Linked DNA regions of Homo sapiens. The protein of the gene in region 1 purifies or fractionates together with the protein of each later gene. This does not show direct contact. Each region holds a gene or a part of one and is shown on either strand. Other genes may lie near its edges. The genes, in order: PTPRN, METRN, DNAAF5, TBC1D15, CYB5D2, SGSM2 and ADPGK.

The links.
Region 2: the proteins of PTPRN (region 1) and METRN purify together in Homo sapiens (affinity purification with mass spectrometry; one large-scale study listed by BioGRID and IntAct). This does not show direct contact.
Region 3: the proteins of PTPRN (region 1) and DNAAF5 purify together in Homo sapiens (affinity purification with mass spectrometry, with the first as the bait; one large-scale study listed by BioGRID). This does not show direct contact.
Region 4: the proteins of PTPRN (region 1) and TBC1D15 purify together in Homo sapiens (affinity purification with mass spectrometry, with the first as the bait; one large-scale study listed by BioGRID). This does not show direct contact.
Region 5: the proteins of PTPRN (region 1) and CYB5D2 purify together in Homo sapiens (affinity purification with mass spectrometry; 2 studies listed by BioGRID and IntAct, with this or other methods). This does not show direct contact.
Region 6: the proteins of PTPRN (region 1) and SGSM2 purify together in Homo sapiens (affinity purification with mass spectrometry; 2 studies listed by BioGRID and IntAct, with this or other methods). This does not show direct contact.
Region 7: the proteins of PTPRN (region 1) and ADPGK purify together in Homo sapiens (affinity purification with mass spectrometry; 2 studies listed by BioGRID and IntAct, with this or other methods). This does not show direct contact.

What each region holds. Positions count from the first base shown.
Region 1 is NC_000002.12:219,289,123-219,292,401, reverse strand, and holds the end of PTPRN (receptor-type tyrosine-protein phosphatase-like N isoform 1 precursor), read left to right. Parts: intron 1-878; coding exon 879-932; intron 933-1,511; coding exon 1,512-1,576; intron 1,577-1,790; coding exon 1,791-1,864; intron 1,865-2,104; coding exon 2,105-2,176; 3' UTR 2,177-2,779; downstream 2,780-3,279. UniProt on the Homo sapiens protein: Plays a role in vesicle-mediated secretory processes. Required for normal accumulation of secretory vesicles in hippocampus, pituitary and pancreatic islets.
Region 2 is NC_000016.10:713,682-717,917, forward strand, and holds the start of METRN (meteorin precursor), read left to right. Parts: upstream 1-1,436; 5' UTR 1,437-1,608; coding exon 1,609-1,712; intron 1,713-1,902; coding exon 1,903-2,303; intron 2,304-3,251; coding exon 3,252-3,311; intron 3,312-3,389; coding exon 3,390-3,706; 3' UTR 3,707-4,236. UniProt on the Homo sapiens protein: Involved in both glial cell differentiation and axonal network formation during neurogenesis. Promotes astrocyte differentiation and transforms cerebellar astrocytes into radial glia.
Region 3 is NC_000007.14:750,699-754,198, forward strand, and holds part of DNAAF5 (dynein axonemal assembly factor 5), read left to right. Parts: intron 1-3,500. UniProt on the Homo sapiens protein: Cytoplasmic protein involved in the delivery of the dynein machinery to the motile cilium.
Region 4 is NC_000012.12:71,916,259-71,919,758, reverse strand, and holds part of TBC1D15 (TBC1 domain family member 15), read right to left. Parts: intron 2,062-3,500; coding exon 1,962-2,061; intron 1,309-1,961; coding exon 1,211-1,308; intron 1-1,210. UniProt on the Homo sapiens protein: Acts as a GTPase activating protein for RAB7A. Does not act on RAB4, RAB5 or RAB6.
Region 5 is NC_000017.11:4,149,697-4,153,196, forward strand, and holds part of CYB5D2 (neuferricin isoform 1 precursor), read left to right. Parts: intron 1-194; coding exon 195-335; intron 336-3,500. UniProt on the Homo sapiens protein: Heme-binding protein which promotes neuronal but not astrocyte differentiation.
Region 6 is NC_000017.11:2,344,001-2,347,500, forward strand, and holds part of SGSM2 (small G protein signaling modulator 2), read left to right. Parts: intron 1-522; coding exon of another isoform or gene 523-660; intron 661-3,500.
Region 7 is NC_000015.10:72,766,759-72,770,258, forward strand, and holds part of ADPGK (ADP-dependent glucokinase isoform 4 precursor), read right to left. Parts: intron 1-3,500. UniProt on the Homo sapiens protein: Catalyzes the phosphorylation of D-glucose to D-glucose 6-phosphate using ADP as the phosphate donor. GDP and CDP can replace ADP, but with reduced efficiency.

The DNA.
Region 1 (3,279 bases):
AGGAGTATGCAGGTGACTCCCAAAGCAGAAAGGTCATAAAGGACAAGGGCAGGTTAGATGGGTCCATTGAGAGACGGAGAAGCCCCCTGCTCCTCACTGAGTTGTGGTCAGGGGCAGTGGAGAAAGGTCTGAGGTCCAAGGGGACCCCAAGTCTGAATATAACGCAGCCACAGAATGCCTGTGCTGAAGTGAGACTGCTCCAGGGAGACAAGCAGTAGCACAATGTCCCGAGTTGAGGGGTTGGGGTTGTCCTCCCCTGGCCCAGGGAACACTATGCCCAGGGCAGCCTGATGTCACAACTGGTAAGGACCACTGGAGCCTGAGTCGGGAGGAAAACAGCCTGGGTGGTCATAAAGAATGGCAGAGGGCCAGAGCAGGGATGTGGCAAGACTGACACCCTTGAAGTCACCAGAAAGCTATCCCCTTGGACTTGGGCAGAAGTGTCTCTTAATATGATGATGTATTATCATTAATAGTTGCCACCTGCTACCATGTATTGAGCACCTATTGTGTGCCAGACCTAGCACTTAGCTCTTTACATGGGTTATCTCATGTGATCATTGTAAGAACCCTAAGGAGGTTTTTCTTACTATCCTCCATTTTACAGGTAAGAAAACTGAGGCTCAAAGAGGTTAAATCAGTTGTTCCAGGTGCATAGCTTGGGCACCTAGCTTGCAAGTGACAAGGCGAGCCCAATGCCACCCACACCAGCTCTGGTTCTTTGCCTCCAGCCCTGGCTCCTTTCTCCAACCATCTTCCCTCTCTGCCCCGGGCAGGTGGGGAGAAAAGGAAGAAAGAGAGGCCCACGTCATGTGTTTCAGCTTCCCTTTCCCTCTCTGCTGGTGCCCACTGGCCCTCACACCCATTTCTTGTTGCAGGAAGGTGAACAAGTGCTACCGGGGCCGCTCCTGCCCCATCATCGTGCACTGCAGGTGGGTGGAGAGGAGATTCATCTCTCTGGTCCCACTCCCTGTGTGCGTCTCCTGTGCACATTGCCTGCCTGTCCCCTTGGTGCTAGCAAACTGCAGGCATAGTCCAAATCCAGCACACCACCTGTTTTTAATGGCCAAGACCTAAGCGTGGCATTCACAGTTTTAAATGGGTGAAGAAAAAAGAAGAAAAGTATGTGATACAAACTGTATGTGGCCCACAAAGTTGAAAATATTGACCATTGGCCCCCTATACACAAAAAGCTGGCTGAAGGCTAGAGAGGCCCATCCAATTCCCTCCTGCTGCCTCTGCTTCTGGGCTGAGCCATGGCTCTCCTCTTTGGTTGTCCCATTGCCCAAATGACACCCACAGGTCACAGACTCCCCTCTCAAGGCCCAAGTCCCAGCGTGCAGGTGCTATGAGCTTTCCTTCATCCTCGGCTCACTGTCCCTCTCCAAGCCAACCCCAACGGGTCACCCAGTGTCCTCCCCTCCCCCAGGCCTCCAGGCCTCCTCGCCTCCTCCGTCCCTCCCCCTTTCTGCTGCATCTCAAGCTAAACCTGTCACTAACTCCTGTTTCAGTGATGGTGCGGGGAGGACCGGCACCTACATCCTCATCGACATGGTCCTGAACCGCATGGCAAAAGGTAGGGAGCTTCCCCACGGTGCCCGCAGCCCCCAGGCCCTTTTTAGAGGCTCCCCAGCACACAGGGTCCTGGGAGCTCAGAAGGAGCAGGTTGTCAACCTCCAGGCTCTGCCCAGCCCTCCAAGGCTCTTTGCCTCCAGGAGGCCTCAGGTTTTCTGGGTCCTGTCCTCCTCTGGACACCCCCTGAGCAGCCCCATCCCCACCTCCATCTCCAGGAGTGAAGGAGATTGACATCGCTGCCACCCTGGAGCATGTCCGTGACCAGCGGCCTGGCCTTGTCCGCTCTAAGGTGACCATGCCTTCCTGCCCCAACCCCAGCTCCCACCCTTCCCTAGCACCCACTTCTTGGCCACCCCAGGGAAAGCAGCAGCTGCCAACCTTTCCCACCTGCTTCTGCGCCTCCTCCAGGAGGGCTCCCTTCCTCCCAGGGGACCTGCCCAGGGCCCTCCCCCCACCAAAAGCCCCCCATCTTGAGGGCAGAGCACAGGTCAGCCCTCTCCATGACCATCCTACCACTGCCCTTCCTCAGGACCAGTTTGAATTTGCCCTGACAGCCGTGGCGGAGGAAGTGAATGCCATCCTCAAGGCCCTGCCCCAGTGAGACCCTGGGGCCCCTTGGCGGGCAGCCCAGCCTCTGTCCCTCTTTGCCTGTGTGAGCATCTCTGTGTACCCACTCCTCACTGCCCCACCAGCCACCTCTTGGGCATGCTCAGCCCTTCCTAGAAGAGTCAGGAAGGGAAAGCCAGAAGGGGCACGCCTGCCCAGCCTCGCATGCCAGAGCCTGGGGCATCCCAGAGCCCAGGGCATCCCATGGGGGTGCTGCAGCCAGGAGGAGAGGAAAGGACATGGGTAGCAATTCTACCCAGAGCCTTCTCCTGCCTACATTCCCTGGCCTGGCTCTCCTGTAGCTCTCCTGGGGTTCTGGGAGTTCCCTGAACATCTGTGTGTGTCCCCCTATGCTCCAGTATGGAAGAATGGGGTGGAGGGTCGCCACACCCGGCTCCCCCTGCTTCTCAGCCCCGGGCCTGCCTCTGACTCACACTTGGGCGCTCTGCCCTCCCTGGCCTCACGCCCAGCCTCCTCCCACCACCCTCCCACCATGCGCTGCTCAACCTCTCTCCTTCTGGCGCAAGAGAACATTTCTAGAAAAAACTACTTTTGTACCAGTGTGAATAAAGTTAGTGTGTTGTCTGTGCAGCTGCAACCCAGACTCCTACGCATTTCTGTCCGCTGTGCATCTGGACTCCAGCCCCAGCCTCAGCCCGGAGCCGGTCCCTGCTGGTCTCTCAGGAGGTGCAGAGAGCACAGCAGGAGAGCGCCAGCTGCCAGTAAGGCCCTTCTAGGTGGGAACACTACGTTAGAACGAGGCTTCCTATGCAGCCAGCAGTCTCCAAGGTGCTTTACATGATGAGTCCCATTTTACAGATGGAAAGACTGAGGCACAGAACTTGCTTGTGGTAACACGTAACACAACTTGTAAGATTGTAAGGTGCAATGGCTCATGCCTGTAATCCCAGCTCTTTGGGAGGCTGAGGCAGGCAGATCACCTGATGTCAGGAGTTGGAGACCAGCCTGGCCAACATGGAGAAATCCCGTCTTTACTAAAAATACAAAATTAGCCGGCCATGGTGGCTCGCGCCTGTAATCCCAGCACTTTGGGTGGCTGAGGCAGGCATATCACCTGAGGTCAGGAGTTCGAGACCA
Region 2 (4,236 bases), on another chromosome or scaffold:
ACTCAGCTGCAGACAGGCCTTTGGGAGTCTTCCACCTTTTGGGGATTGTGATGGCTACTTCTGACCTGCACCTCGCCCAGAGCAAGGGGCTGGCCGAGCCCAGTAGGCGCCTTGTTCCTGTTTGGCCTGGGAGGGCCCTGGGGTTGAGGGAGGGCCTGGTCAGTGGGATCCAGCCTCCCACTGCCACTGAGCCATCTGGCCTCATCTGTCCGACTGCCACTGGTGAACTCATCTGTCCACCATGAGTTTCGAGCGCCGGGTGGCAGGAGGTTTGGGGGCAGGGGACGGAATGTTCACATCTTCAGGCTGCACAGTCTATGCTGGTCCTTGCAGTCCCCGGCTAAAGCTTCTGTCGTCCGTAAGGGGTTCAGTATGTAGTGGGACCCCTTTGCTTGTGCCTTAGGCCTTCTGTGATCTGACCTGTCGTCCCCACCCACCACCCATGCCCTGGGGTTTCACTGGGCTGCCAAGAGCTCCTTCCTCAGGCCCTTGACCCAGGCTGTCTGCTCTCCCCCATTCTCTTCCTGTCCACCTGGCCAGCCACTGCCCACTTCCTCCCATCAGGCCAACTCAGCAGTCCCGGATGCTGGGAATCCCACACTGCTCCAGCCTGAGGCTACAGTGTGTTTGCGAATCGCCTGTTTCTGCTTGTTTCATCTTGGTGGGGGCTGCTCCTGTGGCCCAGGGGTGTCCTCCCAGCTCCTGTGTCTCCACGTGCTGCAGGCCTGCAGGGGTGCCCGTGGCTGCTCCATTCACGCCCCTCCAGGAGCCCCGTCTGGCCCGGGGTCGGTCATCCGGCAACTATGGGGTGCCGCTAGGTCTGAGGAAAGGGGCCTAAGCCTGCGGGCTGCGCGCTCTTCAGCAGGACCCCCTCCTGCAGACGGCCTTACCAAAACCCGAGGCCTGGCCCCGCTCCAAGGCGCAGCCCCCAGGCCAGGCCTTCCCCGCCTCTGGAGTCATGACCCCTCTCCTCTGGGGCTCCACCGGCCTCTGGTCAGCAGGACCGGACCTGGTTGGGAGGGATGTGGCCAACAGGCCCAGGTCCCAGTGTTAGGAAGGAGCAGGCCCGGCCGCCCGCGAGGCGGAACCACCAGGTGGGCCACCTTCCCTACCGCCACCCCGAGGTTCCAGTGGACATCAAAACCTCGGCTCCATCAGAGGCTCCAGGACTCCGATCGGGACAGCGCGGGGGGCGAGGCCAGGGTGAGGGCGCGGCGAAGGAGAGACGCACAGCGCGGGGCGGGCAAGGAGCCTCCCTTCCGCGCCAAGGCCCCCCCCAACCCTCGAGGCGCTTGGACCGTGGGATAGTCCTCCGGCGGCGCCCGAGCTCCGGCCCCGCCCCCGCTCCGCCCCGCGCCTGCTATTGGCGGAAAGTTCCGGGCCGCGCCGCGACTGGCCGACACGCCGCAGGCCCCGCCCCCTTCCCGACCCGCTCCAAGGCGGCCCCGGCGCTGGGGCTGCGCGGCAGGCGGAGCGGCCGCGGGCTTGGGGGCTTCGCCGGGGCCGGGCGGCCGGCGCCCCCGGCTGCTCCCGCCGCCGCCCGGACCCGCGCCCCGCCGGGGCAGCGGTGGTGAGAGCCCCGACTCCCCGGACGCCGCCCGCCGTGCCATGGGGTTCCCGGCCGCGGCGCTGCTCTGCGCGCTGTGCTGCGGCCTCCTGGCCCCGGCTGCCCGCGCCGGCTACTCCGAGGAGCGCTGCAGCTGGAGGGGCAGGTACGGTCCGGGGGGCTGTCCCCGCACTTAGGACGGGGTGCGCTGCGGCTAGGACCCCCCAGGCGCCCCTCGGAGCGCGCAGAGCGCTGGGCCGGTTTCCCCATCCGCGAGGCGGCCTCGGGAGGGAGCGGGGGCTGCGCCGGGCGGGGACCCGCCCCCGTCTCAGCGCCCCGTCCCGTCCTGTCCCCAGCGGCCTCACCCAGGAGCCCGGCAGCGTGGGGCAGCTGGCCCTGGCCTGTGCGGAGGGCGCGGTTGAGTGGCTGTACCCGGCTGGGGCGCTGCGCCTGACCCTGGGCGGCCCCGATCCCAGAGCGCGGCCCGGCATCGCCTGTCTGCGGCCGGTGCGGCCCTTCGCGGGCGCCCAGGTCTTCGCGGAGCGCGCAGGGGGCGCCCTGGAGCTGCTGCTGGCCGAGGGCCCGGGCCCGGCAGGGGGCCGCTGCGTGCGCTGGGGTCCCCGCGAGCGCCGGGCCCTCTTCCTGCAGGCCACGCCGCACCAGGACATCAGCCGCCGCGTGGCCGCCTTCCGCTTTGAGCTGCGCGAGGACGGGCGCCCCGAGCTGCCCCCGCAGGCCCACGGTCTCGGCGTAGACGGTGAGTGGCGGTCTGGTTGGGACAGGGTGGGAGTCCCGAAGTCTTACCCTGCCTGGGCTTGGCGGGAATGTGCCTTGTCGGCCCCACTGCAGAAGGAAAAAGTGAGCTACAAGGGTTGGATGGGCTTGTCAGGCCACACAGCCTGGGACTGCTGGGGAGGGATGGCCTCCCCGCCCTCCCTTCCCGATTCATCTCTGGAAAGAGCTGGCAGGGGCAGAGTGGAGGGAAGGGGAGGCCGGGCCCAGCAATCCTGGGCCTCTGGTCCCTGAACGGTTGGGGGAAGAGATGGTGGGGACAGAATCGAAGCCTCCGGCCAAAGCTGTCCGGGGCTCCCTGGCCCAGCGGTGACCTCTCTCCCCTCCCCCAGCCCAACCAACAAAAGTCCAGTGTGCAGCCCGGTCACCATGGAGACGCCGCTCGCCTCCCTGCAGGGCACCAGGCCCAGCTCTTGCTTGGCTCTCCTGGAGCTTGGCGCCTGACCCTGAAAGGGATGGGCTCTCGCTATTCTGCCCCCTGGCCCTGGGCCAGGGACCCCAGACCACCCTTCCTCTGCCCCCACTTCCTATCACCCTAGCTGGGCTGCTGCTCTTCAGACCTCAGATCCGGGAAACTAGAGGGGTCCCAGATGCTGGGGTGCATATGTCAGATGGGAGTGCAGGAGGGCGGCCCAGGACAGCTGATCGCTAGGCATGGCCCCCAGGCCCACGTCTGTGTGCATTCCTGCCTTGGAGGTACGCGCCTGCAAGTGTGTTTCCTGAGTACAGGTGTCGCCGAGGGCGTGCACATCTGCTGTGTAGCTCTCTGGGACCCCCAGGTGCCATCAGGCCCTGAGCGTGGGCTCTGCTCATTTGCCTGCTGCCTCCTGCCGCTTGTGCGGACAAGGGACGGGGCCTGGGGTGATGCCGGGAGAGGGCAGGGCCTCTCCTCACCACCCCCTCTGCATGCCAGGTGCCTGCAGGCCCTGCAGCGACGCTGAGCTGCTCCTGGCCGCATGCACCAGCGACTTCGGTGAGTGTCCCCGCCATGGGGGGAGCCTGGAGCCTGCCTTCCCCTGAATGCCTACCGCAGCCACATGCCTCCCCACAGTAATTCACGGGATCATCCATGGGGTCACCCATGACGTGGAGCTGCAGGAGTCTGTCATCACTGTGGTGGCCGCCCGTGTCCTCCGCCAGACACCGCCGCTGTTCCAGGCGGGGCGATCCGGGGACCAGGGGCTGACCTCCATTCGTACCCCACTGCGCTGTGGCGTCCACCCGGGCCCAGGCACCTTCCTCTTCATGGGCTGGAGCCGCTTTGGGGAGGCCCGGCTGGGCTGTGCCCCACGATTCCAGGAGTTCCGCCGTGCCTACGAGGCTGCCCGTGCTGCCCACCTCCACCCCTGCGAGGTGGCGCTGCACTGAGGGGCTGGGTGCTGGGGAGGGGCTGGTAGGAGGGAGGGTGGGCCCACTGCTTTGGAGGTGATGGGACTATCAATAAGAACTCTGTTCACGCAAGCTGCTGTGGACCTGGTCTCCTGTGTCCAGCCCAGCCTTGGGCCTGCCTCGCAGCTGTGAGGATGGCTCCAATTCCTGCCTCCTGGCGGGAGACTGAGGCTCAGGGGAATGGTATCTTGTTCAAGACCATTTGGCAACTGAGAGGGAGAGCAGATGTCAGGAGGAGCTACACCCACATTCCGGGGAGGGGCCGCTGCTGGGTGGGGGGCACGTGGGGACCTGCACTCATGCAAGCTTCTGCTCTGCTGCACCCACCAGCCCCGTCCTTGCCCGCACCCTTGCCTGCTTCCCTGGCTGGCTCCCACTTGCCTCCCGTGCCAGGTGCTTCTGGGGCTCAGCAGGAGAGGAAAGGGGCAGAGGGGCATAGGGTCCCTCGGGTACGGTGGGGGCAGGCGGGCGCACAGCGCTCCGGCTCTGAGCCAGGCCTGTGAGGGAAG
Region 3 (3,500 bases), on another chromosome or scaffold:
AAACCAGTCCCAGCCTGTGTCCAGGCCTTGCGTACCCCTGCCCAGCACCGGCCAGTATTTCTTTGGAAACACCCAGAAGCCCAGGTGCCCACAAAGCTCTGTTCAGCTGTCAGCAGACCCCTCCCCGGCTGTTCCTGGTCACGCATCTCTCATTTTGCAAACTTTCCAGAGCGGATCGTCATCAGGAAGAAAGGTGCAGCTGGGCGTGGTGGCGCATGCCTGTAATACTGAGGTCAAGAGTTCAAGACCAGGCTGGCCAACATGGTGAAACCCCATCTCTACTAAAAATACAAAACTTAGCCAGGTGTGGTGGCATGCACCTGTAGTACCAGCTACTCAGGAGGCTGAGACATGAGAATGGAGAATTGCCTGAACTCAGGAGGTGAAGGTTGCAGTGAGCTGAGATCGCACCATTGCACTCCAGCCTGGATGACAGAGCGAGACTGCATTTCAAAAAAAAACGAAGAGAGGTGTGTTTGCACCCTGGCTTTTTTGTTTTTTACAAAATGATGACAGGATCATTTAAACAGCCAGCAGAATTTTAATTATTTGGAACTAATTCCATAATACAGGATAAAAACAGAAAAATAACCAGAAAAAGGTTAAAAATGGGGTGTCCTGGTACAAGCTGTTCTTATTAAAACATACCCTTTAGCCTGGATGCAGTGGCTCACACCTGTAATCTTAGCACTTTGAGAGGCCGAGGCAGGAGGGTTACTTAAGCCCAGAAGGTCAGTGCTGCAGTGAGCTGTGATCGTACCACTGCACTCCAGCCTGGGTGACAGAGTGAGACCCTTTCTCTAAAAATAGAAAAAGACCCTTTAAATCCTGACATATCATGGTTTCATTTCTATCTTTACAGTTGTTCTGAATTTTTTTTTTTTTTTTTTTTTGAGATGGAGTCTCACTCTGTCGCCCAGGCTGGAGTGCAGTGGTGTAATCTTGGCTCACTGCAACCCCCACCTCCTGGGTTCAAGTGATTCTGCTGCCTCAGCCTCTGAGTAGCTGGGATTACAGGCGCTCGCCAGCACGACCGGCTTATTTTTTCTATTTTTAGTAGAGACGGGGTTTCACCATGTTAGTCAGGGTGGTCTTGAACTCCTGACCTCAGGTGACCCGCCTGCCTTGGCCTCGCAAAGTGCTGGGATTACAGGCATGAGCCACCGTGCCCGGCCTGAATTTTGAAGATCAGAATCTTTTCATCAAAGTCCCTGAAGGCTTTTCTGTAGAAATCGACAAACTGATTGTGAAATTCTCGTGGGCGTGCAAAGGACCCACAGCTGCCGAAACACTGGGGAGGAGTGAAGCTGAATGGCAGCAGGTCCTGGGTGCAAGACTCACAAAACCACAGTCATGGGGCCACGTGGTGTTGGCTTTCAGACCGATGAGCAGAACGAGAGCGTCCAGAAACAGGCGCCCGCACGCGGACCACTGACTTGATGAAGGCTCAAAGACCATTTAATGGCATCTTTTAATAAGGATACTGTAAATGATAGGATCACTCATACACCAGAAAGTGAACTTGGAGTCAAAAAATTAACCCCAGATGCGTCAGGGATCTGAAGGTAAAGCCCAGAACCGCAGAGCTAGGGCGAAGCCTTTGTGACAGTGGGCCGGGCCACACTTCGTGGGATACGTCCTCAAAAGACCGCAGAGTGATGACGAAGCCTTTGTCACCGCGGGCCGGGCCACGCTTCCCTGGGTGCATCCTCAAAAGACTGCAGAGTGACGACGAAGCCTTCGTGACCACGGGCCGGGCCACACTTCGCGGGATACGTCCTCAAAAGACCACAGAGTGATGACGAAGCCTTTGTCACCGCGGGCCGGGCCACGCTTCCCTGGGTGCATCCTCAAAAGACTGCAGAGTGACGACGAAGCCTTCGTGACCGCGGGCCAGGCCACGCTTCCCTGGGTGCATCCTCAAAAGACCGCAGAGCTAGGACGAAGGCTTCGTGACCGTGGGCCGGGCCACGCTTCCCTGGGTGCGTCCTCAAAAGACCGCTCTGTAACAGGGTAAAGCAATGTGTGGACTTCATCAAAATGAACACTTCTGCTTTTTCAAAGGCCTGTTGAAAAAACGAAAAGACAAACCAAAGACTGAGATGTTTGGAGATGATGTATGTAAGGATTTATCTCCAGAGTATAGGAAGAGCTCTTGAAACTCAGCAGGAAAACAATCCATTTTTTTAAATGGGCAGAAAACAATTTGGAAAGACCCTTTACCAGGGAAGATAGGCGGCAAACAAGCCTGTGAAGAAGACGCTCGGCGTCGTTAGTCATCGGGGAATGCAAAGGAAAAGCACACGGAAATGCCACTGTGCCTCTCGGACTGCTTTCAATTCAAGACTGAGCGTACCGCGTGCCGCTGAGAGTGGGAAGGAGCGCGGACTGGCTCAAACACTTTGGAAAATGGTTGGACAGTTTCTAAAACAGTTAAACGTGCACCTTCCCTGTGGCCCAGCCCTTCCACAGCTGGTATTTGTCCCGGCACAGTGAAAGCCCAGGCCACACAGACTTGCCCTGGACACCATTTGAATGCTTCTCCACAGAGGAGCGGGCACTAAACTGGCATCTCCCCAGAACAGGCCACTTCCCAGGTTCAGAAAGGAGCGGGCACAGGCGGGCCTCAGAAAACGATGCAGAGTGAAAGAAGCGGAGAAGGGAGGAGAGTGAACGAGAGGCTTCCACTTGTGTCAGGCTCTAGAAAGTGCAGCTCAGTCACGGGACAGATCCAGGGGTGCCGGGGTGCCTTGGGGGCTGCAGTGCAGAGGAGCAGAGGAAGCCGGGCGAAGGACGCAGCTGTCACCCCCACCATGCCGATGGCTTCGCAGCCGTGTCTCTCATATGGCGATGGCTTCGAAGGCATGTCTCTCTGATCATATGGGGACGGCTTCACAGACGTGTCTCTCATCATATGGGGACGGCTTCACAGGCGTATCTCTGTCATCATATGGCGATGGCTTCGCAGGCTTGTCTCTCTGATCATATGGGGACGGCTTCGCAGGCGTGTCTCTCTCATATGGGGACGGCTTCGCAGGCGTGTCTCTCTGATCATATGGCGACGGCTTCGCAGGCGTGTCTCTCTCATCATATGGCGATGGCTTCGCAGGCGTGTCTCTCTCATCATATGGGGATGGCTTCGCAGGCGTGTCTCTCTGATCATATGGCGACGGCTTCGCAGGCGTCTCTCTCTCATCATATGGCGATGGCTTCGCAGGCGTGTGTCTCTCTGATCATATGGGGACGGCTTCGCAGGCGTGTCTCTCTCATCATATGGCGATGGCTTCGCAGGCGTGTGTCTCTCTGATCATAGGGGGACGGCTTCGCAGGCGTGTCTCTCATCATATGGCGATGGCTTCGCAGGCGTGTGTCTCTCTGATCATAGGGGGACGGCTTCGCAGGCGTGTCTCTCTGATCATACACGTCAGCACGTGTGGCAAGTGTGTTGTTTGCATCTCTGTGTGGCTCTAAATGTTTGTTTTTTGAGACAGGGTCTCGCT
Region 4 (3,500 bases), on another chromosome or scaffold:
ACTCCCACATGCTTAGCGTTCCAATAATGGAACACTAGGCATAAATACATTAACCCATTTTTAACCCCCAAATTAAGACACTAATTTAACAAAACTGATAAACATTTAAGTACGATTCCAGATAGAGACCATGTGGGTTTTACTTCTAATCTGAGAACAGAGGAAGTGAGCATAAAGTAATCCACTTTTAACTTGTAATCAGCACAATGCCTTGTCTAATGGTAGCACAGCCATCAATAGTATAGGAATCCATTTCCAGCTGTAAAAACCTCAGAGACCACTAGAGTTCCACTGTATAAAGTTGGATTTACAATCAAAATGGATTATCTCCCAATTCTTTCCTTGGAAGAATTTCTGTTATCCTAAGGTATGATCAATCATTATACCAGCATTCTATGAACAAGCACACTGGGCTGGACACAGTGGCATACACCTGTAGACCTGTAGTCCCAGCTACTTATAAAGCTGAGGCAAGAGGATTACTTGAGTCCAGGAGTTCGAGATCAGTCTAGGTAACATAGCAAGACCCCTTCTCTTTAAAAAAAAAAAAAAAAAAAGCACACTGATTTATTATTAGCAAATACTTTAGAAAATGTGAAATGATTTGGTTTTTCATTAAAGGTTGCCATGGAAAAATAAACACTGGGGATTACACATGGGGGGATGGTGTAAGGGAAACATGGGATGTAAAATTACCTATTGGGTACTATGCTCACTACCTGGGTGATGGAATCATTCACACACCAAACCTCAGCAACATGCAATTTACCTATGTAACAAACCTGCACATGTACTCCCTGAACCTAAAATAAAAGTTGAAAAAATAAAGAGTTGCCTTGGGTAAAAAATGGAACAAAAGGAGTACACCAAAAACATAAGAATATCCTCTATAACAGATGTGGCAAAGCCTCACATAAAGTCAAGTCTCACAAAGGAAGAACAAAGGCAGCAAATGGTCTAGAGCACTTGTTCTGGGATACCTCTTGGCCCCAAATCTCACAGAGATTGTGATTTGAAGAACGAAGCTCCAAAAGACCAAATATTCAGTGTGAAACTAATTTTTAAGAAGAGGCTACCAGTTCATCAGAATTTTGGAACATACTTGCCTTAGATATTTCAGTAAGGCTATCATAATTCATTTACACTCTACAGAATAAATTGTTTCTTTTCATAATAAATATCACATTTGCATAATAATTTAAGGACTTACCTCCCATAATCGAAGAATATCTAGAAAACTAAATTCCCTTTTGAATCTGATTAAAAGCCACCTGAAGCAAAAATAAAGGTATCCAGAGTCCTGAGATTCTATGCAGAAGAAAAAAACACACATATGACTTACTCTTATGCTAATTATGTCAGAATACAGTTACTTTTCTCTAACTTTCCTATGCATCTTAGGCAATTCAAGGCCCTATACATTTGTCTTCTACGTTAAGGAATCATTTCAAACTTGAAGGCTGACTTCTTTTTAAAAACTAACAAATAATACATTTTACGAATCAAGTTTAAGGCAGAATTATACAAAGAGAGTTTGGTTCCACATTTTTATGGAACCGAAGAAAGTGCAATAGAGTATATATGTCTTTAAGTTCTTTTTTATTGAGACAGTGTCTTGCTATGTCACCCAGGTCGGAGTGCAGTGGAGTGATCCCAGTTCACTGTAGCCTCAACCTCCTCGGCTCAAGTAATCCTCCCACCTCAGCCTCTTGAGTGGCTGGGACTACAGGCATGCATCACCACAGCCAGCATTTTTTTTTCCTTGTAGAGATGGGGTCTCACTGTGCTAGCCAGGCTAGTCTCAAACTCCTGGGTGCAAGTAATCCTCCCTCCTTGGCTTCCAAAGTGCTGGGATTATAGGCATGAGCCACTGCACCTGGCTTCTTTAAAGAGTTCTTTACATTTTTTTCTATGCATTACTCTACAATTTGCTGGGTATAGTTCTGATTCACTAAACTTACCTAAGTAACTGCAAAATCCACTGTCTAACAATCGAAGTAAGGTACTCAGCTGAATTAGCTGGGTCTTCATGCCTTGCATTTGTTCTTCAAAATTCTGATGCTTTAAAAGGAAATAATTGTTACAAGTAATATTTAATAAATATTTTATAGTACATAATGACTGATAACTAAAACATGATGTCTAAGGACAAATGCTGAACTTATACCACACTGGTAATCTTAAAAAATGCGTAACTAACCAAAAATCTAACGTAACACTAAAAGGGAGGGTAAAGAGAAAGAATCCTTGCTCTCAAAACTAAGGATTATTTTTTCCTCTATTCATTTGACTTAGATAAAGAAGAATGCAGACATAGCAACTGCAGACTGACTATTTATTTCTTACACAGCATAAAAGACTTGGTGAAAGAAACACACATTTGGGAAATAAATATTTATCAAATTCTTTCCATTGTTAAATATTCCTTCAAATTATACATAATAAAATTAATTTTAGTTTTAGTATGTATTTCATTTTAAAGAATTACTTTACATTGGAGAATCTGTAAAGCCAAAACCATTTTCAGGACAATACTAAAACATTATCTGGATTTCATACTTAAATTCTTTCACAAGTGCAAAGGCTGTATGATGTGTGATACTCCAAAAGACTGAACACAGAAGCAAATATGAAAATTCAGCTGTCTTCTATTAAACCAGACATTTTTAAAAATGAAAAATTTAAAACAATCTCTTGTGTCGGTAAATTTTTCATTAGGAAAGGTTACTTTTCATTAAAAAAAAGTGATCTATGTTAAGGTAGAATGTGTTGTTATTTAATGAATTAATAAATAAATGAATACAAGTTTCTCAGTATTAATTTTTCACATAAACATCAACAGATATAACCCACATAAACAAAAACTCTTTCAGGTCTTCAATAATATTGGAGAGTGTGAAGGGGCCCTGAGGTCACAAAGTTTGGGAACTGCTGGGGTTCATATGCTTTAAAGAAACTTCATAGTTGAGTAGACTCCCTACCAACACCTGAGTCAAGGGGCCAGAAGGCACCAAAACTGATGCTCTGAAAGGCTTCTTAAATGATTTGGATCCCTTTAACTCATATGTCCCGATCCCTCTGTGGTAACCTACCGCCCTAACCCTAGTGAAAGCCTTAGAAAAACATTTCCTCCTTCACACTTACTTTTTCACTTTTACAGTACAATAGTGCTTTATTAGAACTATCATATTAGAAACAATTCATTCTTAAAAAAAATTTAAGTCTATTAATTCTCAATAAGCTGTTTCTCTTTAATGAATTTTAAAAACCAGTTTATTAATAGACTAACTCAAGGCTTTAGGATATAGTTCCTCCACATTTACCAGAGAGATCTATAGAGAAGGGGCAGAATCAACTCTGATTAACAGGATCATTTTTGCTGTGACACAGTCAAAGACTAGAGCTGATCTGGGAATACCAACATGGCATAGACATTTGCTACCCACTCTGCTGTAAAAAAGAAACATGTCCATAATGACAGACACCATATTCGAAAAAGT
Region 5 (3,500 bases), on another chromosome or scaffold:
GCTGAAGCAGGAGAATGGCTTGAAAGCGGAAGGCAGAGGTTGCAGTGAGCTGAAATCATGCCACTGCACTCCAGCCTGGGCAACAGAGTGCGACTCCGTCTCAAAAAAAAAAGAAAAAGAAAGAAAACAGATTCTTGAGTGGGGATGGTGTCAGTGGTTTACACCTGGGTCTGATGGAAACATCTCTGTTCCAGGCCGAGACGCATCCAGAGCTTTCGTGACCGGGGACTGTTCTGAAGCAGGCCTCGTGGATGACGTATCCGACCTGTCAGCCGCTGAGATGCTGACACTTCACAATTGGCTTTCATTCTATGAGAAGAATTATGTGTGTGTTGGTAAGTCGTCCATAGGTCATACATTTCATTTGGTTGTCTGCAGTGTTTTTAGGGGGCTGAGATTTTTTAGGGATTGGGTTCAAGCTTAAAATCTGAAAAACAGCCATGGATTTGTTTTACTTTAAATTCTGGTCGTTAGAATAGGGATGAGCCGCCCAGAAGGAGATGGATGGGCACCTGCTTCCCCCACTCTTAGTCTTGGGAGAGGATTACTAAGCTGCTTGCTTTGGCCTCAGTTTCGCCATAGCCAGTGGTTGCTTGCACCATCCTTGAACAACCAGCTCCAGAAGGGCAGCTTCCCTGTCTCACTGTGTTCGATGCATCTGGCTTCAGCACACAGCCAGAAGGGCTTGAAGCCTGAATTTGTGTTTCGACAAATCCCCTTTTATTTGGTCCTCTAGGAGGAGACAAACTTCGTGAGTGAGCTGTCTCCCAGGTGGTAGTTATGCTAATCAAACCACTGTGTAGGTTACTGCACTTGCTACTTACTGATGCTACATAAGGGACTTGCTTCTCAAATGAGACAACACCAAACTGTGTCCTAAAGCAGTGTTAAAGACTCTAAACACTAGGCCCGGCGCAGTGGCTCACGACTGTAATACCAGCACTTTGGGAGGCTGAGGCGGTTGGATCACTTGAGGTCAGGAGTTCAAGACCAGCCTGGCCAACATGGTGAAACCCTGTCTCTACTAAAAAATACAAAAATTACCTGGGCGTGGTGGCACGCACCTGTACTCCCAGCTACTCAGGAGGCTGAGGCAGGAGAATCGCTTCAGCCCGGGAGATGGAGGTTGCAGTGACCTGAGATTGCGCTACTGCACTCCAGCCTCAACGAAAGACACTAAACACTAGATTGCTTCACAAGTACTGACAACTGGGATGGCCGTAGCCCTTTCTTCTATCTATCTGCAGCCCCCACGTCTCACTGGAGTCCTACTTGGACATGACTGACTTCCTGAGGAACACCAGTATCACTTCACCATCGAAACAGGTCTAACTTGGAAGAATTCTTTCCTTAATGCCTCTGAATTTCTGCTTCTGTCATCACTGCTTGAGTTACCTTTTCTGAGAACCTTGGCATTTTTATTAACACCTCAGCTCCCTCCACATCCAATCAATCATGGCTTTTTCATAATATCTAAAGTTTGTGTCCATCCATTGTGGGCCTCTGCAGCACGCCTTTCTTCATTTTCTCTCGTATGCCCAAGATCAGTCTTGAGACCATAACCCTGTCTACCATCGAAGGCACTGACCTCTACTCACCTGCGCTTCAGAGGGCTGGGTTCTTCCCTTTCCCAATGAAGTTGCCAAACCAAGGTTGAAACATTACTGGGTTAATAAAGAAAAGAAAACCCAATAGAAAAGAATAAGAGCCAGGAGTGGTCTCTCACACCTGTAATCCTAACACTTTGGGAGGCCGAGGTGGGCGGATCACCACCTGAGGTCAGGAGTTCAAGACCAGCCTGGCCAACATGGTGAAACCCTGTCTCTATTAAAATACAAAAATTAGCCGGGCATGATGGCAGGTGCCTGTAATCCCAGCTACTCAGGAGGCTGAGACGGGAGAATTGCTTAAACCTGGAAGACGGAGGTTGCAGTGAGCCAAGATCGCACCACTACACTCCAGCCTGGGTGGCTGAGTGAGACTCTGTCTCAAAAAAAAAGAAAAAAAAGAAAAAGAATAAGAATGGAGTCCAGACCGGTGGCTCATGCCTGTAATCCCAGCACTTTGGGAGGCTGAGGTGGTCGGATCAGTTGAGGTCAGGAGTTCAAGACCAGCCTGACCAACATGGCAAAACCATGTCTCTACTATAAATACAAAAAATTAGCTGGGTGTGGTGGGACACACCTGTAATCCCAGCTACTCAGGAGGCTGAAGCATGAGAATCACTTGAACCTGGAAGGCAGAGGTTGCGATAAGCCGAGATCACATCACTGCATTCCAGCCTGGGCAACGGAGTGAGACCCTGTCTCAAAAAAAAAAAAAAAAGAACAGAGTCCTGTAAATGGGCAAAGAATGCCAGGCCAAATACTTCATACTAAGATTTGGGAGCACACTGGAAGTGTTCGGATGCGTTTGGTGTGACAAGTGAGCTGGTCTTGTTTGAATGATGTATAATGTGTTGAGGATGGGGTGGGGCATGTGGCGGGAAATGCCTCAGAAGGATTTTAGTTGATGTCAGGATCTTATTGAATACCTACTACTCATAAGTTACGGGTTCCATCCTCAGGGGGACCAGGGATGAATTGAGTCCAGTTCCTGCCCCTGTTAGCTCATTCTGTAGGATAGGGGCCATGTTAGGCTCTTTCAGGTTACCAGAAACCCTCAGGATACATCAGTGGATGAAGGTTTATTGTAAGGGTACATACTGAAGTGAGGACAGCCAGGAAGCCATCTTGGCAGCCAACATGGCCAGGCCTCAAGGGAAAACAAGATGGCCTTGGTTATGCTGTGGATACAGGATTGGCTTGGAGATGCAGCCACTGGTGATCACCATTCTCATGACACAGATTCTAGAACTCTTCCTCTGTTGCCTCTGCTACTACTGTCCTCTCTTTGGGTCTCATGTCAGAAACTCACCAAAGACAGGCTTGTCACCATATAACACAGACACCCCAACCCCCGTAGTGGGAAATTCTGTGCCAGGCCAACTCATAGACTGCAGGCCTGTGACTCGGGCCCTGATTCCTTTCTTTATTCATCTAATAAGTATTTAAAATGAATGCTCTATGCTAAGCTGTTTTATTTATTTATATATTTTTTCAGATGGAGTCTTGCTTTGTCACCCAGGCTGGAGTGCAGTGGCACGACTGCAGCTCACTGCAACCTCCAACTTCTAGGTTCAAGCAGTTCTCCTGCCTCAGCCTCCTGGGTAGCTGGGATTACAGGCATGCACCACCACGCCCAGCAAATTTTTGTATTTTTAGTAGAGACAGGGTTTCACCATGTTGGCCTGGCTGGTCTCGAACCCCTGACCTCAAGTGATCTGCCCGCCTCAGCCTCCCAAAGTGCTGGGATTACAGGTGTGAGCCGCTGCGCCTGGCGCTAAGCTGTTCTGAGTACTGCGCCTCACTAGTAGAGAGAGCCATCATAGACAAGTAAACAGATTGAACAACTCCACATAGGACCATGCATCAAACTGTGATGTAATACGTTTGGGAGCT
Region 6 (3,500 bases), on another chromosome or scaffold:
GACTGATTTTGATTTTGACTTCAGGGAGGGGTTTGTGCTTTTCGGATGCTCTGTGCCACTTTCCCTTTGTTTCCCACCCGTGTTGCTCCATGATCCTAACCCCAAGCCCTTGACTGGATGCAAAGGAGCCTGAGCGTGGGCTAGGAGAGGTGGCTAAGGCTTCCAGCCTCAGAAGGGACTCTCTCATCACCTCCTTCTCAGTGTGGCCAAGCCTTCCAGCCCCAGAAAGGAGAGAGTCGCTTATAAACCATTTCCGCCTCCTCAGCCTGAAGACTTTTGCTTTGTAGGAGCAAGCCTATCCCTACGCACAGACTCTTCTTGGATTTCTAGGAATTTCAGCTTCCTCTCAACCCCCCATCTGAAGGGACAGGGAACCATTCACCTTCTCTGTGTTGTATTCCTTGGCCTCTGAGATTGGTGTTGGGGTTTGTGGAGGGAAAATAATGAAAGAACAGATAAGGGAAGGGATGCTTTGGACGGTAGTGTGGCACAGCAGATACAGCTGCCCTTCCCCTCATCCAGCAGCAGATCCCCACCAAGGGCTCACCAGGTGCCAGACACCGTTCACCGTGCAAGGAAATGGCAGTGACAAGATGGACAGAGTCTCTGCCGCAGGAGCTTACATTCTGTTGGGGAGACAGACAGGAAACAAATGCGCAAGTAAATATGTCATCCAATAACTTGGCATGTGATAAGAGCTAGGAAGAAAAAACATGTGGGAGGGCAGTCGGAGAGGCAGCCTCTGAGCAGAGTCTGAGTGACAGACTGGGGTTTGAATCCTGGCGTCCTGCCTTTTAAGTCGTCTTGGACAAGTTTCTTAACTTCTCTCACCCTCAGTTTGCTCCTCTAAAAACAGACTGATGATTCCCACCTCAAGGAACTTTCGTGGGGATTGAGATGATGTGTGTAAATGTTCATTCGTTCGTAGCATTGTAAGCACTCAAAGAATATTCGTCTCTCCTCCTTTGGCTGTTGAGGCTGAAGGTAGGTTTGTAGGACTTGAGTTCATACCATGTCCGTTTGGGAAGGTTTCCCCAGTTCTTTGAGATGGTGGAATAATGATTCCTAGGTTTACAAGACACAGCCTGACCTCAGTTTTTCTCAGCAGAACCTATGCTCTGGAAAAAAAAAAGGCATGCCAGTATTATGATAAGCAACTTTGAAGAGTATTAGAATTCTCGGCCGGGCACAGTGGCTCACGCCTGTAATCCCAGCACTTTGGGAGGTGAGGCAGGTGGATCACCTGAGGTCAGGAGTTCGAGACCAGCCTGGCCAACTTGGTGAAACCCCGTCTCTACTAAAAATACAAAAATTAGCAGGGCGTGGTGGCGGGCGCCTGTAATCCCAGCACTTTGGGAGGTGGAGGTGGGCGGATCACGAGGTCAGGAGATCGAGACCATCCTGGCTAACACGGTGAAACCCCGTCTCTACTAAAAATACAAAAAATTAGCCAGGCGTGGTGGCGGGCGCCTGTAGTCCCAGCTACTCAGGAGGCTGAGGCAGGAGAATGGCGTGAACCCGGGAGGCGGAGCTTGCAGTGAGCCAAGATCGCGCCACTGCACTCCAGCCTGGGTGACAGAGCGAGACTCTGTCTCAAAAAAAAAAAAAAAAAAAAATTCCTACTTTTTAAATACTGACAGCTAATTCCCATTTAAAAAAAAATTGTGTGGGCCACACAAAAGACATCTGCCAGCCTCTGCCAGTGTGCAGCCTCTGTTTTGGGTTCGGTACAGTCACGGAGAACAGGAGCAGGAGAGGTTCCAACAGTATCGGGCTAAGTCAGGCCAGGGTATCTCAGGGCCTACAGACAGAGAAATCCTTATGCTTTGTCAAAATTGGTGCTCAGTGGTGAGCTAAATCCCAATTTGGGCTGAAACTGAGGCTCGTTGAAAGCATTGATTATCAACCTTTTTCCTCTGCCTGCAAAGCAGCTTCCTTGCATTGCATGGTGGAATCACGAGAGACTCTTGCGGGGGACGGGGAGGGAAGACTAGCAAGGTATGGATCAAAAACACCACCCCTCTCTGCCTTTTTGGAGATTCTGATGTGCCAGTCTCCCTCAGTCCCTGGAAAAATGCTCTGAAATGCATTTTTAGTCTGAAGTTGATCCAGACTTAAACTGTGCCTTGCTACTGTCCTAGCCACGTCCGAATTCAGCTTTGTTGTGGGAGAAATGGGAGTATAGAGAACGTGCTGAGAGGTCAAGAGCAGAGTGAAGTCTGTGGAGACTGGATTACCAGCCTAGCGACACCACGGTCCCTAGTTTCAAGGGACCCTTGTGTACTGGGCCCCTCAACTCCACACCGACCCATGGTTCTTGGCAGAGGAGGGTTGGGGGTGACTGAGGAGAGCCAGGCCTAGGCAATACAAGCTTCTCTGAGCTTCTTAGAATGCAGACATTTAAACAGAAAACACAGAGCCTTCCTGGAGAGCCTTCCTGAAGAATCACTGTGTCAAGACCTGACCATGGGCAAACCCAGGAAAGTTTGCAGCCAGATCCCCATTCCTGTTACCCAACGGGAGGGGCAAGACTCCTAGGACTGGCTAGAAAATTGCTTTGTTGAGTGTTTGCTGTGGTTGTTCCTAAACCTGTCTGTCCAGAAGCTGGACATGCAGTAGGCCCCTGCGAGTAGAAACTTTCCTTGTGTGGAAGTTTTCGCTGGCAAACCAGTCTGGCGGCAGCAGGGGGGTGGGTGGGGTTCTCTGTGTGCTGTTCCCAGGCCCGAGGATCAGAACCTATGTAACTGCCACCTCCGTGCCAGTGGAGGGTGGCGCTAGGAGAATGGACTCAAAACTACCACTATGGGGCCAGGCATGGTGACTCACACCTGCAATCCCAGTGCTCTGGGAGGCTGAGGCGGGAGGATCCCTTGAGACCAGAAGCTTGAGACCAGCCTGGGCAATATTACAGGATGCAGTCTCTACAAAAAAATAAATAACTCGCTGGGCATGGTGGTGCACGCCTGTAGTCCCAGCTACTCCAGAGGCTGAGGTAGGAGGATCACTTGAGCCCGGGAGGTTGAGGCTGCAGTGAGCTATGATTGCACCACTGCCCTCCAGCTTGGGCAACAGAGAGAGAGAGAGACCCTGTCTCGTTTGTTTGTTTATTTATTTATTTATTTAGAGACGGAGTCTCACTCTGCTGCCCAGGCTGGAGTTCTGTGGTGCTATCTCAGCTCACTGCAACCTCCGCCTCTCAGGTTCAAGCAATTCTCCTGCCTCAGCCTCCTGAGTAGCTGGGATTACAGGTGCCTGCCACCACACCTAGCTAATTTTTGTATTTTTAGTAGAGACAGGGGTTTCACCATGTTGGCCAGGCTGGTCTCGAACTCCTGACCTCAGGTGATCTGCCCACCTTGGCCTCCCAAAGTGCTGGGATTACAGGTGTGAACCATCACACCCGGCCTCATTTTTTTTTTTTTTTTTTAAACAAAATCCAAAAACTACCACTGTTGGGGAGAGGTCTTTGATATATCCTTTTATCCTTTTTATCTTAAAAC
Region 7 (3,500 bases), on another chromosome or scaffold:
GTACAGTATAAACCCTAATGCAACCACTAAGAAAAAAAGAATTATACCTAATAAAGTCAGAGAAGATAAAATGAAATCATAGAAAATAATCCAAAAGAGTACAGAAAAAGAGGGACAAAGATAGAGATGGGGCAAACAGCAAACAAATAGCAAGATGTTAGATTTAAACCTAACCTGATATATCAATAATCACATTAGATGTAAATGGTCTAAACACTCCGATTAAAAGGCAGAGATTGTCAAAGTGGATTAAAAAGCAAGCCCCAACTATACGCTGTCTATAAAAAATACACTTTAAGGTAAAAAGATGCAAATAGATTAAAAGCACAAGGACAGAAAAAGATATACCATGCCAATACTAATCAAATGAAAGCTGGAATGGCTATTTCAATCAAAATAGATTTCAGAGCAAAGAATATTATGAAATGATTTTATTTATCCCTAGTAATGATAAAGGAATTAATTCATTAAAGGGATGTAACAATCCTAAACATTTATGTACCTAATAAGAGTTTCAAAATACATAAAGCAAAAAGTTACAGAACTATAAAGGAAATAGACAAGTATCCAAAATTACAGTTGGAGACGTCAACATACCTCTTAATAACTGACAGATCAAATAGACAAAAAAAAAAAAACCAATAAGAATATAGAAGACTTGAACAACACTATCAATCAACTTCATCTAATTGACATTTACAGAACACTCGACCCAACAACAGAAAGGCTTATGTATATTCTTGAAGCTTTCAAGTACACACAGAACCTCACCAAGATAGAATATTCTGCACCATGAAAAAGGTCTCAAAAACTTAGTAGGATTCAGGTCATAGAAAGCATATTTTCTGACCATACTGGAATTGAAATAGAAATCAGTAACAGAAAGACATCTGGAAAATCCCCAAATATTTAGGAACTAAATAACATACCTCTAAGTAGTCCATGAATGGGCTATTAAATGGCACATCTCAATAAATCAAAGGGATATTAGTATTTTGAAATGAATGAAAATAAAAATAATCCATCAAAATCTTTGGGATGCAGCTAAAGCAGTACTTAAGGGGAAATTTATAGCACTAAACCCCTATATGAGAAAACAGGAAAGGTCTCAAATCAATGATTGTAGCTTCTCACCTTAAGAAACTAGAAAAAGAGCAAGTCAAATCTGAAGCAAGCAAAATCCAATGAAAATAGAAAAACAGAGAAAAATAAATTCACCAAAAGCTAATTACTTATTAAAAAGAGCAATAAAATTTATAAACCTCTAGCCAAGCTGATCAGGAAAAAAAAGAAGATACAAATGACCAATATCAGGAATGAGAAGGAAAACATCATTACAAATTGTAGAGATCTTAAAGGAATAATAGAATACCATAATTAACTTTATGCCAATAAATCCAACAACTTAGATGAAACAAATTCCTTGAAAGATACAAACTACTAAAGCTCATTTAAAAAAAAAAAAGGAAAATCTGGATTTCCCTATATCTATTAAAGAAATCAGTTATTTAAAATCTTCCTACAGAGAAAACCCTGGGCCTAGAAGGCTTCACTAGAAGGCTTAAATTCTATAAACATTTAAGGAAGATACAATACCAATGCGACACTCACTCTGTTTTAAAAATTGAAGAAAGGGCCAGGTGTATTGGATGAATCCAAGCACTATGGAAGGCTGAGGCAGGTGGATTACTTGCAATCAGAAGTTGGAGACCAGCCTGGCCAACACAGTGAAACTCCCTCTCTACTAAAAAATACAAAAATTAGCTGGGCATGGTGGCACACACCTGTAGTCCCAGCTACTCGGGAGGCTGAGGCATGAGAATCACTTGAACCTGAGAGACGGACATTGCAGTGAGCTGAGATCGCCACCACTGCACTCCAGTCTGGGCAGAGCGAGACTCCATCTTAAGAAAAAAAAAAAATTGAAGAGAAGATAGGTGTGGTGGCTCACACCTGTAATCCCAGCACTTTGGGAGGCTAAGGCAGGCGGATCGCTTGAGGTCGGGAGTTGAGACTAGCCTGGCAACATGGTGAAACCTCAAGTCTACAAAAAATACAAAATAATTAGCTGGCTGTGGTGACGTGTCTGCAATCCTAAATACTCAGGAACTCGGCTGAGGTGGGAGGATGGCTTGAGCCCAGGAGGCAGAGGTTGCAGTGAGCCGAGATCATGCCACTGCACTCCAGCCTGGATGACAAGGCCAGATCCTGTCTCTCAAAAAAAAAAAAAAAATTGAAGAGGGGGAAACACTTTCCAACTTATTCTACAAGGCCAGTATTGCCCTGACAGCAAAACCACAGACATTACAAGAAAAGAAAAATACAGACCAATATTATTCTTGGGCATTGATGTAAAAATTTTAAACACAATTTTAGTAAACTGAATATGTGAAAAGGATAATGAATACATCAGAACAAAGTAAGCTTTATCCTAGAGATGCAAGGTTGGTTTAATATGTGAAAGTCAATATAATTACCATATATCAAACTAAAAAACAAAAAACCACACAATAACCTCAGTAAATGCAGAATTTGACAAAAGCATTTGACAAAATAAAATAACTATTCCTAATTCTTGCCTAATTCCACAAGTATATATTTTTTTGAGATGGAGTCTTGCTCTGTCGCCCAGGCTGGAGTGCAGTGGCGCAATCTCGGCTCACTGCAACCTCCGCCTCCCGGGTTCGAGCGATTCTCCTGCCTCAGCCTCCTGAGTAGTTGGGACTACAAGCGCCTGCCACCATGCCCAGCTAATTCTTTGTATTTTTAGCTAAGACAGGGTTTCACCATGTTGGCCAGGCTGGTCTTGAACTCCTGACCTCAGGTAATCCGCCTGCCTCGGCCTCCCAAAGTGCTGGGATTACACAAGTATATTTTTTAAAGGCACGGTTCCTCTCCTGAAATTTGGCTTCTATTCTATCATTCCACTAAACCTGCCTTTACTATATTCACCAGCGTCTATTTCAAAGATGCAATATAGCATGGCTATTAGGAGAATGGATTCTGAAGCTTGACTACTTGGGTTCAATTCCCACTCTACTCATTATCAGGTATGTGATTTTCACCAGTTTTAACTTCTCCATGCCTCATTTTTCCTATCTGCAAAATGGGGATAATAAAAAGACTTCCCTTATAGGGCCCTATGAAGATTTAAATTGGTTCATACACATTTAAAGCACCTAAAACTTAAAACAGTGCCTGGTATATGGTAAAAAACTATAGAAGGAAGTGCCAGCTATAATTACCACCTCTGGAAAATACCTAGTTCTTAATCTCTGTAGTTCTCAGATGATCTCTCAGTCCATGTTGAGAAGCATTTCAGAAAGTTAAACTGAGTCTCTTTGAGAGTGCATACAGGGTGAAGTAAAGGCAGAGCCTGACACTTGAATCCTGACTCTATCATTTACTAGCCAGGTGCCCCTGGGCACCTTACTTAGCCTCTCTAGACCTCTGTCTTTGAAATCATAAGACTGTTGTGAGGATTGAGTAACAGAATGCTT